2 separate regions of the Homo sapiens genome follow, and region 2 is linked to region 1. A link means that fine-mapping ties the variant in region 1 to the expression of a gene that starts in the linked region. Tissue or cell type: cerebellum. Region 1 holds a variant in brackets; the other region holds the start of a gene. All regions are shown on one strand. Distances are from middle to middle.

Region 1 (8,182 bases):
GTGCATTTAGTGAAATTAAATGTCTCTTTGTAACCTCCTGGTGGCTATTTCTGATAAAATCTATCTCATTACATTTAAGTTTATGGGGCTTAATTATTCTCAGGAGGGCTTTTCCCAAGTTTACAAAAACTAGCTCGAACAGTGGTACAAGAGGCCCCTCCAAGTATGCAAAAGACTTGAGTCAGATTTGTAATACAGTTAAATTACCCAAAAAGCACCTCAGGCCAATTTTTTTTTTTTTTAAACCAAGCTCTTGCTTTTAAACTTAATGTTAAAATTTATTCATTTTTTATTATCAACTCATTTTTTAAAATTATTTAACCATCGCTTGCTTTTAAACCCTGAATTAGTTGTTTTTCTTCATTGAGGCAGAGAAAATTTTTACATAAACTAGTCCATTTTCCAGTGGCCCAGTTTCATCATGTGAGATGTAATAAATATTTAACTGTTATCCTCACTGCAGCCTACTTAAATACCAACGTGGTATTTAAAATAGCTCTTAAGACCAAGAGAAAAACCAGCACACACAAACCTTTTACCTACAAGCAGTAGCTACAAAGACAGCACCACCTCAATAAATTATCGTATTGAAAACAGCTAAGTCAATGCCTATATTTGCTTCTGTTCAAAGGACTAATTGGCTAATATGCCTACACAAAGATCAGAAATGCAGGGTCTAGAAAATTAAATACCATATAAATAAAATCTGAGTATTCTTACCTCTTGTTCTAGACAAAACCATATCCTTTATTATTTGCATAATAACACGCCCAAGTATCATGACGGAAATCAGGTGATATACTCTCCATGGAGTCAATGCAAGGAACCTGCAACAGCGAAACACAAATCAGTATTTCAATTTGAGGATTTTTAACCTTTTCAAAATTGGGTTTACTTCCTGCCACAGAAACAAAAAAGGTATTCAATAATGATTTCACTTTTTTTTTTTTTTTTTGAGACAGAGTCTCGCTCTGTTGCCCAGGCTGGAGTGCAGTGGCACTACCTCGGCTCACTGCAACCTCTGCCTCCCTGGTTCAAGTGATTCTCCTGCCTCAGCTTCGCAAGTAGCTGGGATTATAGGCATGAGCCACCACGCCAAGCTCATTTTTGTATTTTTAGTAGAGACAGGGTTTCGCCATGTTGGCCAGGCTCATCACGAACTCCTGTCCTCAAGCGATCCACCCACCTCGGCCTCCCAAAGTGCTAGGATTACAGGCGTGAGCCACTGTGCCTGGCATGATTTCACTTTCCAAAATCACCCCAGTGTGACTGCATGAAAGTTATTTAATAGGCATCAAAGTCAGCAAAATGAAAGTGTCTGAGCCTGCGCGCTTTTGTGCTAAGCTTTCTGCTCTACCCTCCAATTTCGGGCAGAGGATTTGCTATCTCAGGCATAGACCAAAATATTGCTCCTAGTGCTGGGCTTCTCCAATAGCCGATGGAGAATGGAAGTGACCTGAAACAGAGTTAGGATGGGCTGCAGAGCCAAGCTGCAGGGCTCTCTAACAGACACGGATGGGCTGCACTACAGAGGCCCTTTAGTCACCACCCTGTCTTGTGTTTTCATTTACGCCCTATTCACTTCTCTAACTACTCCCACCCTCGTCTCTTAAAAACAGCAGTTATTGGCCGGGCGTGGTGGCTCACACCTGTAATCCCAGCATTTTGGGAGGCCGAGGCAGGCGGATCACAAGGTCAAGAGATTGAGACCATCCTGGCCAACATGGTGAAACCCCGTCTCTACTAAAAATACAAAAGTTAGCCAGGCATGGTGGCGTGCGCCTGCAGTCCCAGCTACTCCGAGTCTGAAGCAGGAGAATCACTTGAACCTGGGAGGCGGAGGTTGCAGTGAGCCAAGATCGCACCACTGCACTCCAGCCTGGTGAGAGAGTGAGATTCTGTCTCAAAAAAAAAAAAAAAAAAAAAAAAAAAAAGCAGTTATTGAAGATCCACTTTGCTAACTCTTTCGCTTTAAGATCATGCTCCCCTTTTGCTACCTGTCTACCTCCTCTCTGCAGGGAAACAAACTAAAAATTATTGACCGTGAGCAGCACACAAACCCTGCAGTGCTTTTTTTGGGTGTGTTTGTAAAGAAATCACAAAGAGCGTTGAGCCTTCACATGAGATTAGAGGTCTGTTTACACAAGTTAATTGGCCAAGCTGCCAATGAATATTAACTTTGATAGAATCAGAACTCATAGAAAAATTAATTTAATAAATGTTTAAGACTGTTTGCAAGGCTATAAAGAGAAGTAAAGAACACACGAATACTGCCTTCTGCAAACTTGCTTTCTCATCAGACAAACACAGGCCAAGCTCACAAAGTCCAAGGCAGGCAAGGCTTAGGTGTTGTCACAGAAATGTGCAGAGAACAAGGAGAGGCACAGGGAGAGGGAGGATGGATTCGCTCCAAAGCAGGGAATGGTTTTTTTTTTTTAATTGGTTTTTTGGGTTTGTTTGTTTTTTGTTTTTTTTTTTTTTTTTTTGAGATGGAGTTTCACTCTTGCCACCCAGGCTGGAGTGCAGTGGCACGATCTTGGCTCACTGCAACCTTCTCCTCTCAGGTTCAAGCAATTCTCCTGCCTCAGCCGCCCAAGTAGCTGGAAATATAGGTGTCTGCCACCACGCCCAGCTAATTTATTTGTATTTTTAGTACAGACAGGGTTTCACCGTGTTGGCCAGGCTGGTCTCAAACTCCTGACTTCAGGTGATCCGCCGGCCTTGGCCTCCCAAAGTGCTGGGATTACAGGCACAAGCCACAACGCCCGGCTGGGAAGTTTTTATAGAAGCGGCACTTAACTGGGTCTGGGGAGGTGGATGCAACTCAGATGAAAATAGAGGCTCCTCCAATTAGAGAATACAACATGAACCAAAGATCAGACTCAGGAAAGGGTGAGGTACCTGTGGCACATCAAGTAATCTGGGGTGCCTCAGCAGGAAGAGAAAGCAAAAGAAGAGGGTTCAGAGACTGGCAGAGAGACAAGATTGGGGAGATAGGATCAGGGAAGACTGTGTCAAGCAGAATGCGCAGTAAGTCTTATGCTACAAACAATAGAGAGAAAGTCAAAGGTATAGAGCAGGGAAGTGAAATGATGGGTGATTTAGGGAAATGTCTGAGGGCAACAGGAAGGATGTGACGGGGTAGGGAGGAAGCATGGAGTCCAGACCACCTACTAGAAGGTCATGCAGTATGTTTGGTGAAAAGCAGATCAACATGAGATGCTGGGTGACGTGGTGGGTAGAGCCCTCCACCAGAAGGTGGCCAACCCAAGCTCTCACTGGTTCAAATGCTGTTTGTATGGCCTGGGCCAGCAAAATGAGCAGGTGGACTAGGTCAGTGTTTCTTAAATAACAGTCTGCAACTGCTGCCAGGTTGGCTGCCTGGAAAACTTGTTAAAATGTAGATTCCCAGGCCCCAGGCTCCTCCTCCCAGGCCCCCTGAAACAGGTGGTTTGATTACTAGTATTTGCATCTAATAAATATTTATTGATTGCCTAATTGCACCAAGCACTGTGCTACCAAAAGGGAGTGGTGAATTAGGAGCATAGAAAGATGGAACAGACATAAAAGACACAAGTTACAGAATAAAATGCCGCAGTCCATGTCTTTAGCAACAATCATTTGTTCCTCCACTAAATTTGTCCCTCCCCTAAGGAGCCACCACTTGCTCTATTTTTGTAGCTCTTGTTTGTTTTAAGCAAGGTTGCATTCTGGTGTTTGCTTGGTTTGGGGCCAGCCTCCTCACTCTCAATTCAGGATTCATTCTTGCTCTTGTTCATGTGCTGGGTGCTCCCAGTTTTCCCGACCTCACGTTGAAGTGGCAGATTTCATAGTGACCCACAATAAGAAACTCATTTATATTTACATACATATAAATGAAAAACAAGTTTTGAAAAATATTTTCCTTACAATTCATAATGCAGTTCAACTTTTTCCATTCAATTCTATTACGCGTTTAAATGCTGACTGTGAATCACTCGCCTGACTCAGGGCCCACTAATGAGCTGTAATGCGCAGCTCGGCTCACATGGCATGAGACAGAACCTGCAAATGTTCGAACAGCATGCTTCCTTAGAATGGCTTTCTTTGCAGGGTCAGGCAAAGCCCTAGCACAGACAGAAAGCTCCCTCAAGTTTAAAAGTCTTTGGAGCTGGCCAGGAAGCCATTTAAGCATCTTTTCAAAACCAATGAAATGCAAAACCAACCAAAGCACAAAGGCCATTAGTTATTCTCTTAGTGGAAGTTACAAACTTCCAAGAATAATAAAAAAGAAAATTAGGTAATGCCAGGACTGCAACCCACAGG[C/G]CTGGCTGCCAGACTTCATTTGGAAGGCATTGCCACAGCAACTCCAAAGAGCACTCGGGATGTCTGTCTATTCTGTCCTGGGCAAGGGCCCAGTTGGCATATTGGCCAAGGTCTTGTTGGTCATCGAGAATCCTCGGTCCACTGAGAAGACAAGCCCAGCAATTGCTTAGCAAGGTAATGCCAAACTGTATGGGACTACATATTTGATTCTTTGGTGGGTTAGTGTCATATAAACATGTTTGAGAAACGAAACCCTAAGAGAATAATCTGTATTTAGAAAAATCTGAGCACTTTTGGTACTTTAATTATTTATAATGTTTAAGATGATTTGTCTCAGGGCTCCACTTCAAAATATGTAGCTGAGTAATTTAGACTTGTGATTGGAAATTTAAAATCTTACAAACATGAGTTTATTCTTTAGTTTATTCATTTTTCAAGTAGTACCTAATATTTGGGAGGGTTTGTGTTATTAGATGAAGGAATTTTTAAAAAGTTTTTGTTTTGGTAAACTTCAAACGTACACAAAAAGAGAGGCCAGAGTGTAATAAACCCGGTTTCAACAATTCTCCATTCATGGGTAATCTTGTTTCTTCCATATTCCCACCCACTAAGCTCATCCTTCCCCCGAAATTATTTGAAGCAAATCCCAAACATCATGTAATTTAATCTGCAAATACTGCCATTTATCTTCAAAAACAAGATTTTTTCTTTTTCTTTTTTTTTTTTTTTTTGAGATGGAGTCTTGCTCTGTCGCCAGGCTGGAGGGCAGTGGCGCAATCTTGGCTCAGTGCAACCTCCACCTCCTGGGTTCAAGCAATTCTCCTGCCTCAGCCTCCTGAGTAGCTGAGACTACAGGTGCACGCCACCATGCCCAGCTAGTTTTTGTATCTTTATTTTTTATTTATTTATTTTTTTATTTTTTGAGACGGAGTTTCGCTCTTGTTGCCCAGGCTGGAGTGCAATGGCACGATCTCGGCTCACCGCAACCTCCGCCTCCCAGGTTCAAGCAATTCCCCTGCCTCAGCCTCCCGAGTAGCTGGGATTACAGGCATGTACCAACACGCCCGGCTAATTTTGTATTTTTAGTAGAGACGGGGTCTCTCCATGTTGAGGCTGGTCTCGAACTCCTGACCTCAGGTGATCCACCTGCCTCGGCCTCCCGAAGTGCTAGGATTACAGGCACGAGCCACCGCGCCCGGCCAATGTTTGTATCTTTAGTAGAGATGGGGTTTCACCATGTTGGCCAGGATGGTCTCGATCTCTTAACCTTGTGATCCCCCCGCCTCCACCTCCCAAAGTCCTGGGATTATAGGCAGGAGCCACCGCGCCTGGCCAAAAACAAGATATTTTTAACCAAATAACAATACCACCATCACATCTAAAAAATTACTTTAATTCTTAATGTCATCGAATATCCCATCAAGGTTCATATTTCCCCACTCATTTTTGTGTGCACGCACACACACACACACACACACAGACTGAAACAGGATCTGAGAAAGTCATCTGCTGAAATTGGCAGATGTGGATTTTAAGTGTCCTGGACCCTTATAGGTCCCTTGCTGTCAGGTTCATTTCTCCAATAAAGTTTTCCAGCTTCTGGGAATCGTTTGTTGTATCCTTGTGATTTGGTTTAACATTTTCCTTGATCTTTTGTGTAGCCTATAAGTTGGCACGTGGATCTAGAGGCTTGATAAGACTTAGGTTTGTTTTTTTTTTTTTTCCCTCTAAAACCCAAAGATAGGTGGTAGTGCCTGTTTCCATCAAGAGACACGCAGACTGTCTGGATGTCTTGGTGGCTACACTTGCACTATTGGCAGCCACAGACAATCCCTGTCTAGTGGCTGATTCCTCAGAGGCTACAAGGGGTGACGGCCCTTCACTCCTGCTTCGAGTAATAGCTGGATCACAGTTATAACGAGAAACTTCCCCTCATCAATGTCCAATTACACTGAGAGGTGGAGCTCGTCGGAAAGGCAGCATCAGTTCTTGAGTTCTTCCCTTTATTTTACCGGTTTTTTCAAGATAGTGAAGCAGTTCCCTAGTGTCCTCTAAAGGTAACTGATATGGTTTGGCTGTGTCCCCACCCAGATCTCATCTTGAATTGTAGCTCTCCTAATTCTCATGTGTTGTGGGAGGGACCCAATGGGAGACAATTGAATCACAGGGGCGGTTTCTCCCATACTGTTCTCGTGGGAGTGAGTAAGTCTCACGAGATCTGATGGTTTTGTCAGGGGAAACCCCTTTTGCTTAGCTCTCATTCTCTCTTGCCTGCCACGATGTAAGACGTGTCTTTCACCTTCCACCATGATTGTGAGGCCTCCTCAGCCACGTGGAACTGTGAGTCCATGAAGCCTCTTTTTCTTTATAAATTACCGAGTGTCGAGTATGTCTTTATCAGCAGCGTGAAAACAGACTCATACGTTTTCTTATTCCTTTTTTTCCTGTTATTATGAACTCAAGAGTTTGAACATATTTGACGTGTTTCAGTCACTGCAGAGTTATCCTTACTGATGCTCCAGCTACCCCGTCTTATTCAGGTCGCCTCTCAGGTCTTTGGCACAACCTTAGTTATTCTGATAATAAAGTACTTCAAAGGGATATAGAAAATATAACATTTACAAATGCAGTTTAAAATGTTCAAAGGAATATAACTCAACTTTCTAACAAAACTAATCACTTAATAAAGCAATCATTTATTATTTAATGAAACAGTCAGACTCTCTTGAACACGGTTACAATTTGCTAGATTTATAAACAAAATAATGTTTTGTTAGCTAAAATGGAAAGCTCAAAGAAAAATGAGTTTTAAGTTTGTAATTTTATAAAATCAAAATTTTTCTTTAAAAAGTAATTGAACAAAATTGTTTCTAACCGATCTTTACATGGAAACTGGCCTGTAAGGACATCAAAAAACAATCCCCATCTGCTGGGCGTGGGCGATCCTGACACTGGCACGCTGTGGCATCACTCAGAGAAGGACTGTCACAGAATCACAGAGCTGGAAGGAGCTCAGAGGTCATCTGATTTACTTTCATCTGATCCACAAATCCCCTCAGCTGCAATCAACCACCTCTACTTAAATAGATCTCATGCCAGGAAGCTCAACATTTCTTGCAGCATTCAATTTCCGGCAGCATCCTATTATTACTGGGGGAGGCAGGGAATTCTGTTTTCATTCCATTCACAGCATCTGTCACACACTGGGCTAGCTGCTGGGAAAACACTGGTGACTAAATCCCAGCCTTCCCCCTGCAAAGCCAGGAAAGCAGACAGGTAAACAACTGTGTTTAACCAAAGTGCTATTCAGGATGCTGTGGGGGCAGAAAACAGAGCCAGTAACTACATAAAGCAGCCAGAGAAAGCTCTAGAGAAGGTGGCATCTAAACTTTGACTTCGAAAGACATCTGATTTGGCCAGGTAGAAAAGAGACCAATGCATTCCAGGCTGGGGAACAGGGTACCCAAAGGGAACCGCAAGAGAGCCACAAGACTAGAGCCTGAATTAGAGAGGTTACCCTTAACCTTTGTCTCCTCCACTCTGAGGCACAAGTTATGAATTCCAGAACCAAATGCAGGATAAATAGCACAGCTGATTTTCAGTGAGCACAGGACTGTTCTAAGAGCTTTATATGGAGTCACTCATTGAATCCTGTATCCCTTCAGGAAGGGATCGTCATTAAACCTATTTTACAGAAGAGCAAAGAGGCTCAGAAACTTGCTCAAGGCCCCAAGACAAAGGAGACGCAGGACCAGGACATGAATCCAGGCAGCCTGGCTCTAAGCCAGCTCTTGCCATTCTGCTAAACGGCTGCTGGACACAAGTGTCTGCCTCTTAATCTGCCTGCTCCCACATGAAAAGAGCTGGAAGGACTGGC
Region 2 (8,182 bases), 42 kb after region 1:
TGCCAGGTGCTAAATCATTCAAAAATATATCTTTAAAAAGTTTACTTCCACAAAAATGAAATACATCAATTAAAGTGAAAACAACATCCCATTGCTTAAGACAGATTTGGTTGGGTTCCCCACAGTTTTAAAATTGATCTTTTTTTCTCATAGAAAATACAGTGCTTTAGAGTTCCCAAGACACAGAAGGTTAGAGTATCACATAATTTAAGATCATTTGAGAAGAAATACATTATTTAAAGAAAACGTAATGTCCTTGAAAATCATTTTAACCCCCAGAGCAACAAATAAAAGGGAAAAAAAAACAAAATTTTAATGACATTAATAAATGGGTCATAAATTCCAATGAATTATAATGCAAAAGCAACAAGTAATTCTGAACTTAAAGAACAGGACAGTCATTTTTGTCAAAGAAAATACATGCATGGAATGCAGATGCCACAAACAGGAGATGAAATAAAACAGATAAGGAGAAGGCTGTATCTAGGCTGAATGGCTGGCCAATGTTTTCCTCTCCGTCAGTATAAATAAAATGGATGGAAGAAAACACCCCTGGATACTATCAAATATGCCTTTCAATTATTTTATGCAAAAACATTATTTTCAATAGGTGTCATTAAAGAAAACATCATAGAAAAAAGTTTGCAACTCATGTTACAGAAATTAGGCTAAAGTCTTTAATATAAAAACAGCTCCTATAAATCAATAAGGAAAAGAACACTGGCCTACTTGAAAAAATAGACAAAGGTTATTTATAAACAAACAATGCTGATAAATGGTAAATGTGGTAGTTCTTAAACATAAGATAAAATGCTCAATCACAGAGAACTGCAAAATAAAATCATTTTGGGATAGTCTTTTTCACCTATCAGATTTGCAGGATCAAAAAGTTTCATAAAATATTCTTCGCAAGAGTGTGGCAAAGCAGGCAGTCATACACATTGCTGGTGGGAGTATAAATTGTTAGAACCCTAAGGAGCTGCATGCAATATGGTGACAGCCATCAAAATTACAAGTGCACATGCCCTCTGACCCAGCAATTCCACTTCTGGGAAGTTCTCTAAAATACTTGCATATATGCAAAATGATGCATGTACAGGGTCATTAGCTATAATGCTGAAATAGCAAAAGCTTGGAAACATTACTGCCTCAGTAGGAGACAGGTTAAGTAATTTGAGACATCCTTACAATAGAATTCTGAAGCAGCTGAAAAAGAACAAGGAAGCAATCACCAAGAAATACTAGGAAAAGGAAGAGCTCATATGTTATTCCACAATTTGCATAGAATATGGTGTATTTGCTGAAATGTGCACTATCTGGAAAGAGACACAGGAAACTAGCAACATTGCTGGCCTCCGTGAGGAAACTGGGCGGCCAGGGACTGGGATGAGAAAGAGATTTTCAAAATGCTTACCCTTTTGTACCTTTAAACTTTTGCACTGTGAGACTGTATTAGTTTTTTAAAGAAATAAAATTTAAAATTAAGAAATAAAATGTTAAGGCCGGGCGCAGTAGCTCACGCTTGTAATCCCAGCACTTTGGGAGGCCGAGGCGGACGGATCACGAGGTCAGGAGATCGAGACCATCCTGGCTAACACGGTGAAACCCCGTCTCTACTAAAAAAAATACAAAAAACTGGCCAGGCGTGGTGGCGGGCGCCTGTAGTCCCAGCTACTCGGGAGGCTGAGGCAGGAGAATGGCGTGAACCCGGGAGGCAGAGCTTGCAGCGAGCCGAGATCGCGCCACTGCACTCCAGCCTGGGCGACAGAGTGAGACTCCATCTCAAAAAAAAAAAAAAAAGAAAGAAAGAAAGAAAAGAAAAAGAAATAAAATGTTAAAAACATCGTAAACATTAGTGAGACACAGCCCTAAGACTATTAGACTATTGCCCAATCTAGCATAAGACAATATGTCCTTCTTATTTGAGTGCTCGCATTCACTCCATAATAAGATAGATTTGGAATAAACTCTATTCCAAACACAGATACCTAAGAGATCCAAAGTTAATTCACTTTCAGGGACCTCCGACAAGATACAGCTAGTTTTAAGAGAAAACACCAGGACTAGCAGAGATCTGAGGAAAATATTCATCTTGCTCAAGTTAACCTAGAAAATGACAGGCTGTCTATTTTGTGCAATTTATTTATTTCTCAACTTTAAGGTTCAGAAATCTCTGTCCTGTAACAAGGTATCTGTTACCGGAGTCTGATTATTCTGCACTGTGTAGGTCATGTTTGTTATGAGGACACTTAGCAAACAAAGAAGGTTTTTCTCCGCCCTCAATAGCGTGGTAACGGATGACAGGACACCACTTTCAACGAAGGAGACAGACATTTCCCTGGCCTTTCTGAAGAGCGCTTTTTGGAGAGACAAACCTGTTGCTCAGGGGCTGAGCATTCCCGTGTGTTCTCCCTGTACTTCACCTAAAAATATGCCTGTTTTCCACACTGTGCACACCCGGGGGTGGGTGCTGGGCATACTCCACCTGCTTGTTTGCCTCCCGTTTTCTCATCAGGGAGTAAACACAGTAAACCTAACGCTCCAGGGGAAGGAAAAAACAAATCATTCAGGGCCCATCTCAGGTGACTGATGAATGCGGCACCGTTTTGAACGGGTACCTAATCTGGTCCAGATATGCCTGCTGGGGCTGCAAGAACCAAGACACGTTCAAGCACGTTTGCTCCGGCAAGCTTGGGCGAGCAGGTCAAGACCTCAGAGTTTTAGAAAGCAGGGGCGAAGTTTTCAAGCACGATGGGAACACCTGTAGGTGCAGGTGCCTGAGGGTCGGCCGACCACCTCGCATCTGAGGCTGGATCCGCACACGGAGAACGACAACTGCTCACAGGGACGTGCGTCCGGAGGAAAGTTGCGGTGAGTGTCTACCTGTTCGAGACAGGTGGCCGAGAAAGTGGGGCAGGGCTGACAATTCTTCCTCCGCAGTGTCCCGCGGGCTCCCCCTGCACTGGGTCCCCGGGGCCCCGGGCGCCCCAAGGTCACCTGCCCTCCTCAGCGCCCCCACCTTGCCCAAGCTCTCACCAGAACAGCAGGTTGGCAGCGACGAAGCCGAGCAGGCTCCGCAGCGGCCTCTTCCAGCTCAGCAGCTCGTCGGCGCGGCAGCCCAGCCACAGCACCGGCTCCCCGAGCAGCCAGGTTACCGCGGCCGCCGCCCGGCCCGCGGCCTCCTCCACCTGCAACCCCGCGCCCTCCGCCGCCCCAGCTTCCTGCGCTTCCTCCTCCTGCTGCTGCCGCTCTGCGGGGGATGCCTGGGGCGGTGGCGGCGACGGCGGCGCCTGCTCCTCGGCGGCAGGAGCCGGGCATCCCTCCTCGGCGTGCTCCGGAGGCGCCGGGCTCGCCATCTTCAGCTGTGCTTCCAGACAGGGACGGGGCCGGGCGCGCGCGCGGGCGCGCCTGGGTGTGGGTGCCGCCGAGGGCGGGGCGGCGGTGGCGGCAGGTCCCGGAGCGGGGCGCGCACCGCGGGGCACAGGCGGCTGGGGGCCTTGTGACGCCACAGGCCACGGAGGGGGAGCCGCCCGGGAAAGTGGGTGCGGCCGAGTTCGCGCAGGGGCGGGGCCGGGCGCCGGGAGCTGGGCGGTGTCCCCGGGGGGCTCTGGGTTCCTGGAGGGCCTCTCCGGGACTCGAGGAAAACGACCTTTTCCCTTGCAGCGGCGGGAGAGGGCGAAGTGGAGGACTGCTGCTCGGTTCCGTATCCAAAAGAGACCCAAGGCTCCAGGCAAAATAGATTGGACATTTTCACTTTCTCAAGCCAGGGCCACCGGTCGCCCAACCAGCAGCCACTGAGGGTGGTATCGGGGCGCCCCTTCCCCTGGCAGCGTATTTCAGCCCCCAGAGACATCCCCCACCTCGGCCATCCCCAGCGCCTTTGCAGGGACAGCAGCACAACCATAGCAGAGGTCCTGGGCATCCTGGAAATAACGTGCTGGTATAAATGTTGGATTGAGAAAGGAAGAAAAAACATTTGGGGTCAATTTGGGGCCCTCTCGTTTGACACGGGAGGAAACACAAGGCCGCAGCGTTGGGGGAAGCTGCTTCCTTTCTCTCTCTTCTTTCTCTCTGTCTCAGGTGCTTCCTTTCTCTTCTCTGTCTCTCTCTCTCTCTCTGCCTCTCCCTCTCTCTCCCCCGTCTCTCCCCCTATCTTCCCCTCTCTCCTCCTATCTCCCCCTCTCTCCCCCTCCTTGTGGCTAGGTGATCTGGCTCAGAAGTGCACGTTGGCCCGCGCGTGCGGGGAGCTGAGAAGCAAGAGATTGGAACTTTGCACGTGTCAAGCAAGGTTTGGCCTGCTTTGAAGACAGTAATTTCAGAGCCACTCCGGTCTCTGCGTCACAAGCGGGCATCAGGGCAGTGGTGGGGCGGCAGGGGATCCTGAGACCTCCCATGCCCTCTCTTTGGCCCCGGTGCTTCTGGGTGAGTGTGGGGAGAGAGGAAAATAGTTGTTTATGCTTTTCACCATTTGCATTTTTAAATTTTTGTCTTCTTTAATCTTCCTGGTCTTACTTTTACTCTAGAATGACAGGTCCTTCCCCCCCATACTAAGGGTTCTGTCTGCGGATGCATCAGGGCATCTCATATCCCTTTACTGGCAACCAGCCTGCCTGCACAGGATGGAAGGGAGGGCAATTAAATTCCCTGCGTCAAGGGAGTCTCTAGGGGAATGTTCTGTAACGCTCCTCTGGGTGGCCATTGTAAACCTCTGTGTATACACACGTGGAATCCATTGATCTGTACATTCACTGCAGGTGTCTGCACTTTACTGCTTGTATGTTGTACTTCAAAGGAGTTATATTCCCAGAGCCCAGGCAAAGGCTTACTGAGCACCTACCGAGTACACAAAGCATTGCTAAGCTCTGTGGATGCAGCTTCCACCCACAGGAAGCTCCCAGTCTGATGAGGGCCCAGTTACAATTGTGATATCTGCCACAGCGAAGAAGCCTTCGCTAAGTGCTAAGAGATTCCTTACTTAAACTGTGCATCCAAAATTAGGGGAGGAGTGGAGGGATCAGGTTTCAAGAGCGTTTTGTAATAAATGGCCTCTGCCCTAAATTGTAGGGCCCCCATTAGTGTGGGGATTGGGGACAGGGGCAATAACTGCTGTTGGGAATTCAACAGGAGAGGAGGCATGGGGTTGCAGGTGGAGACGCACAGTTCCTTAAGTAACTCACCAAAGGGAATAGTGGACATTGAATGGTCTCTAGTAACAGGAGGCTTGGTTTTTAACTAAAGGTGATACAGAACATCTGGCATTTCCGACTCCCCTTCTTAGGAGTATCCTGACAACCCGATGGAAAGTGGCCTGGGTGTCAAGGAAAAAGCAACGTGGAAACAATTCAGGTTTCTTCCATATAAGAGAGACAATCTTTTCCCAGGTGTGGGTCCTCCCTCTTGGCAGTAGCGGAGAAGTTTTTGAAAGATAAATGATGCTTTTATTGTGTCATTTGGCCTTTGTTTGGCGCTTGATACAGCCCAGGGTTTGCTATTCTAAAATCTGTCACTAGACAGATGTGTGCTGCAGCCAGTGTGGAGAACATGGGGCAGGAGAGAGGAAGAACCAGGTGTCCCCGTTCCCCAGACCAGTGCTGATGTGCTACCAGAAATGGGTTTGCAAGATTAATCACCTTCCTCCTGCTTCCCTTGAATTCTAATTATTGTTGTCAGGATCTGTTGAAGTAGTAAAAGCTGCTGGCAACCAAGACACATAAAAGCTAAGCTCCAGTTGCTGTGTGTGGTTTCCAACACTTATTTATTATCTCTGTTTAATAATAAACCTCCTTCCCCACAGCTATGTGTTGTAAAGTCTATCCTTTCTCTCTCTCTCAAAATTACTATGGAGAAAATGCTATGCAACCTGTTTTGCATAAAAGGCTGGGCTAATTAACCTTTCCTTTTCACCTCCGACCTCTAATACTTACAAACTGTATGACAGAAGTAGACACTGGCATAGACATACAAATGGTGCTGCTGGGTGGGATTTTGTTGTTGTTTTGTTGTTTGTCTAATGATCTTTGTGATGCTTGAGTAATTTATTCAGGGCTAAGATTACAGAAACATAATGCTAACAATGGTTGAAATCAACCTTGTCCCCTAGTTTTAAGAACACGCCACATTCTTGAACTCCTGCAAGTAATCTTACTAAGATTCTCTTCTGAAATTTTATTGCTATATATTAGGAACAGAGTGATTAACACTAGTGAGCTAGATGATTTGACAATATATATCTGAGAAAAGGAAACTGGAAACGTGTCTGAGAAAAAAAAAAGTTCTAGCTACTGAATGAGAGTTTAGAAAATGAGACAGCTCCAGTAAAGAAAGTCCAAATGCACATAAGAACTCTCTAACAGAGGCCACTCACTTTTCTCATCTAAGAGTATGTGGAAAGCTTGTAATAGGAGAGGAAAAATTATGAATAATTAATTCCCACTATAGGAAGTCTCCTAGGGCAAAATCAAGCTAAGACTTAGAATGATGGGGAAAAGCCCCCTAGTCATAATATTTTGGGGAAATTTCTTTTCTCTACAATATTATATATTAGAATCTTACAGTAGCTCCATGATTCCTTAAACAAAAGGAGGCTCGTTGATATGGTTTGGCTCTGTGTCCCCACCCACATCTCACCTTGAATTGTAATAATCCCCACGTGTCAAGGGTGGGACCAGGTGTAGGTAATTGAATCATGGGTGCGGTTTCCCCCATGCTGTTCTCGTGATATTGAGTGCTTGCAAGATCTGATGGCTTTATAAGGGGGCTTCTCCCTTCACTCAGCACTCATTCTCTCTCCTGCCACCCTGTGAAGAGATGCCTTCCGCCGTGATTGTAAGTTTCCTGAGACCTTCCCAGCCATGCGGAACTGTGAGTCAATTAAACCTCTTTTCTTTATAAATTACCCACTCTCAAGTGTTTCCTCATAGCAGCATGAGAATGAACTAATACACTTGTGTATATGTTGTATCGTTTATTAGCCTGCAGATAGAATTTTTTTTGTGTTGGTACTTTTATTAAACTAATTCTACCCTCCTCCCCTTGCTATATCCTCTGCTCCTTATTCCTAAGTTTCCATAATTTTCTTCTCACTAAGAAAACCTGGATAGTTCACTCTAAGCACAGATAAATAAGAGTATCATACAGCATCAGCAGGCACAGAGCAATTGGAAAGGAAGGAAGATCATCTCCCGGGTCTCTAACCTGGCTTCCAAGGCCCAGCCCAGTGCCTGGCTCACAGAAGGAATTCACTATTTCTACTTATGTTGAATGTCTGTTGTGCATATACAGACGGAAATATTCAAACTAGCATAGTCTGTGTTTGACAAGCATTCCATAAGGGATGTGCTTACCAGAAAGATGGTGGCCAAGATGTTGGCCACCCAGATATCAGTTGGGGTATTGCTCCCTAATACCTAAAAGAAGTTTTTTTTTTAAGGCTTCAAAATGGTTAACTGAAAAGAACGGAGGTCACATGACAACATGAGTATATCCCCCAAGGAAGCCTACCTGTCTATCCCCAGGTACACACACAAACACACGCACACCTATGATCCACAGGGGTGACTGCAGGACATTAACTTCCAACCCCTTCCCAACAGGAATCTGAACCAGCAGACAAAGCACTGTCGGGTCCTTGCTGCAACCTCTTCCCCCCACCCCCTTTGATGGTCCTGGTTCTGCATCATTGTACTTGCGTATCATTCACTCATTATTTCATTGCTTCATTCACTAGTCATCAGCCATTCCTGAAAGACTGACTGTGGGCTTCTGGTAAGATGAACAGGACTGCTTATTTCTCTCATGGTGCTTAGAGTATAGACAATGGATAAAGACCCTGAAGAAGGCGCTGGGCAAAGGGAATGGGGAAGCATGGTGTGCACAGTCTGGAAGCAGGAGAGGAGCCAGCCTGGCCCTGGTTGGAAACCTGGAGGAGATCTAAGCTGGAGGATGGGGTGGGAGGAGCAGGAGGCTACTCACAGTGGGGCTCCTCCTGTATGATGCTAGAAGCTTCTGCTTTGTCCTGAGAGCAACAGGGAGCCATGGGTGGGCTTGCAGCAGGACACAGAGGGGCTAGCCTGTGTTTTAGAAAGGTATCTCCAGACCATGGAGGATATAAAGCCTGGCAGAGGGAAGGCACTCTCAGAGACTTTTCCCTTGTCATTCTCTAGAATGAGGGAGGAGAAGGAGC

What was found. PIP is the estimated chance that this variant, and not a neighbour inherited with it, causes the effect.
Region 2: RETREG1 starts here. The variant in region 1 is fine-mapped to the expression of RETREG1 in cerebellum (GTEx, PIP 0.92).

What each region holds. Positions count from the first base shown.
Region 1 is chr5:16,571,276-16,579,457 of GRCh38, forward strand. It overlaps RETREG1 (reticulophagy regulator 1), which reads right to left. Exons shown (of 9, transcript NM_001034850.3): 2 at 721-827. Among named protein-coding and RNA genes, the nearest start is that of RETREG1-AS1, 41 kb to the right of the region's middle. RefSeq lists an enhancer at 3,848-4,412. The variant C/G (reference allele first, on the strand shown) is at 4,306.
Region 2 is chr5:16,613,616-16,621,797 of GRCh38, forward strand. It overlaps RETREG1 (reticulophagy regulator 1), which reads right to left and starts at 3,382. Exons shown (of 9, transcript NM_001034850.3): 1 at 3,037-3,382. The coding sequence starts at 3,356. It overlaps RETREG1-AS1 (RETREG1 antisense RNA 1), which reads left to right and starts at 2,311. Exons shown (of 4, transcript NR_109946.1): 1 at 2,311-2,871; 2 at 8,163-8,182. RefSeq lists a silencer at 3,136-3,625.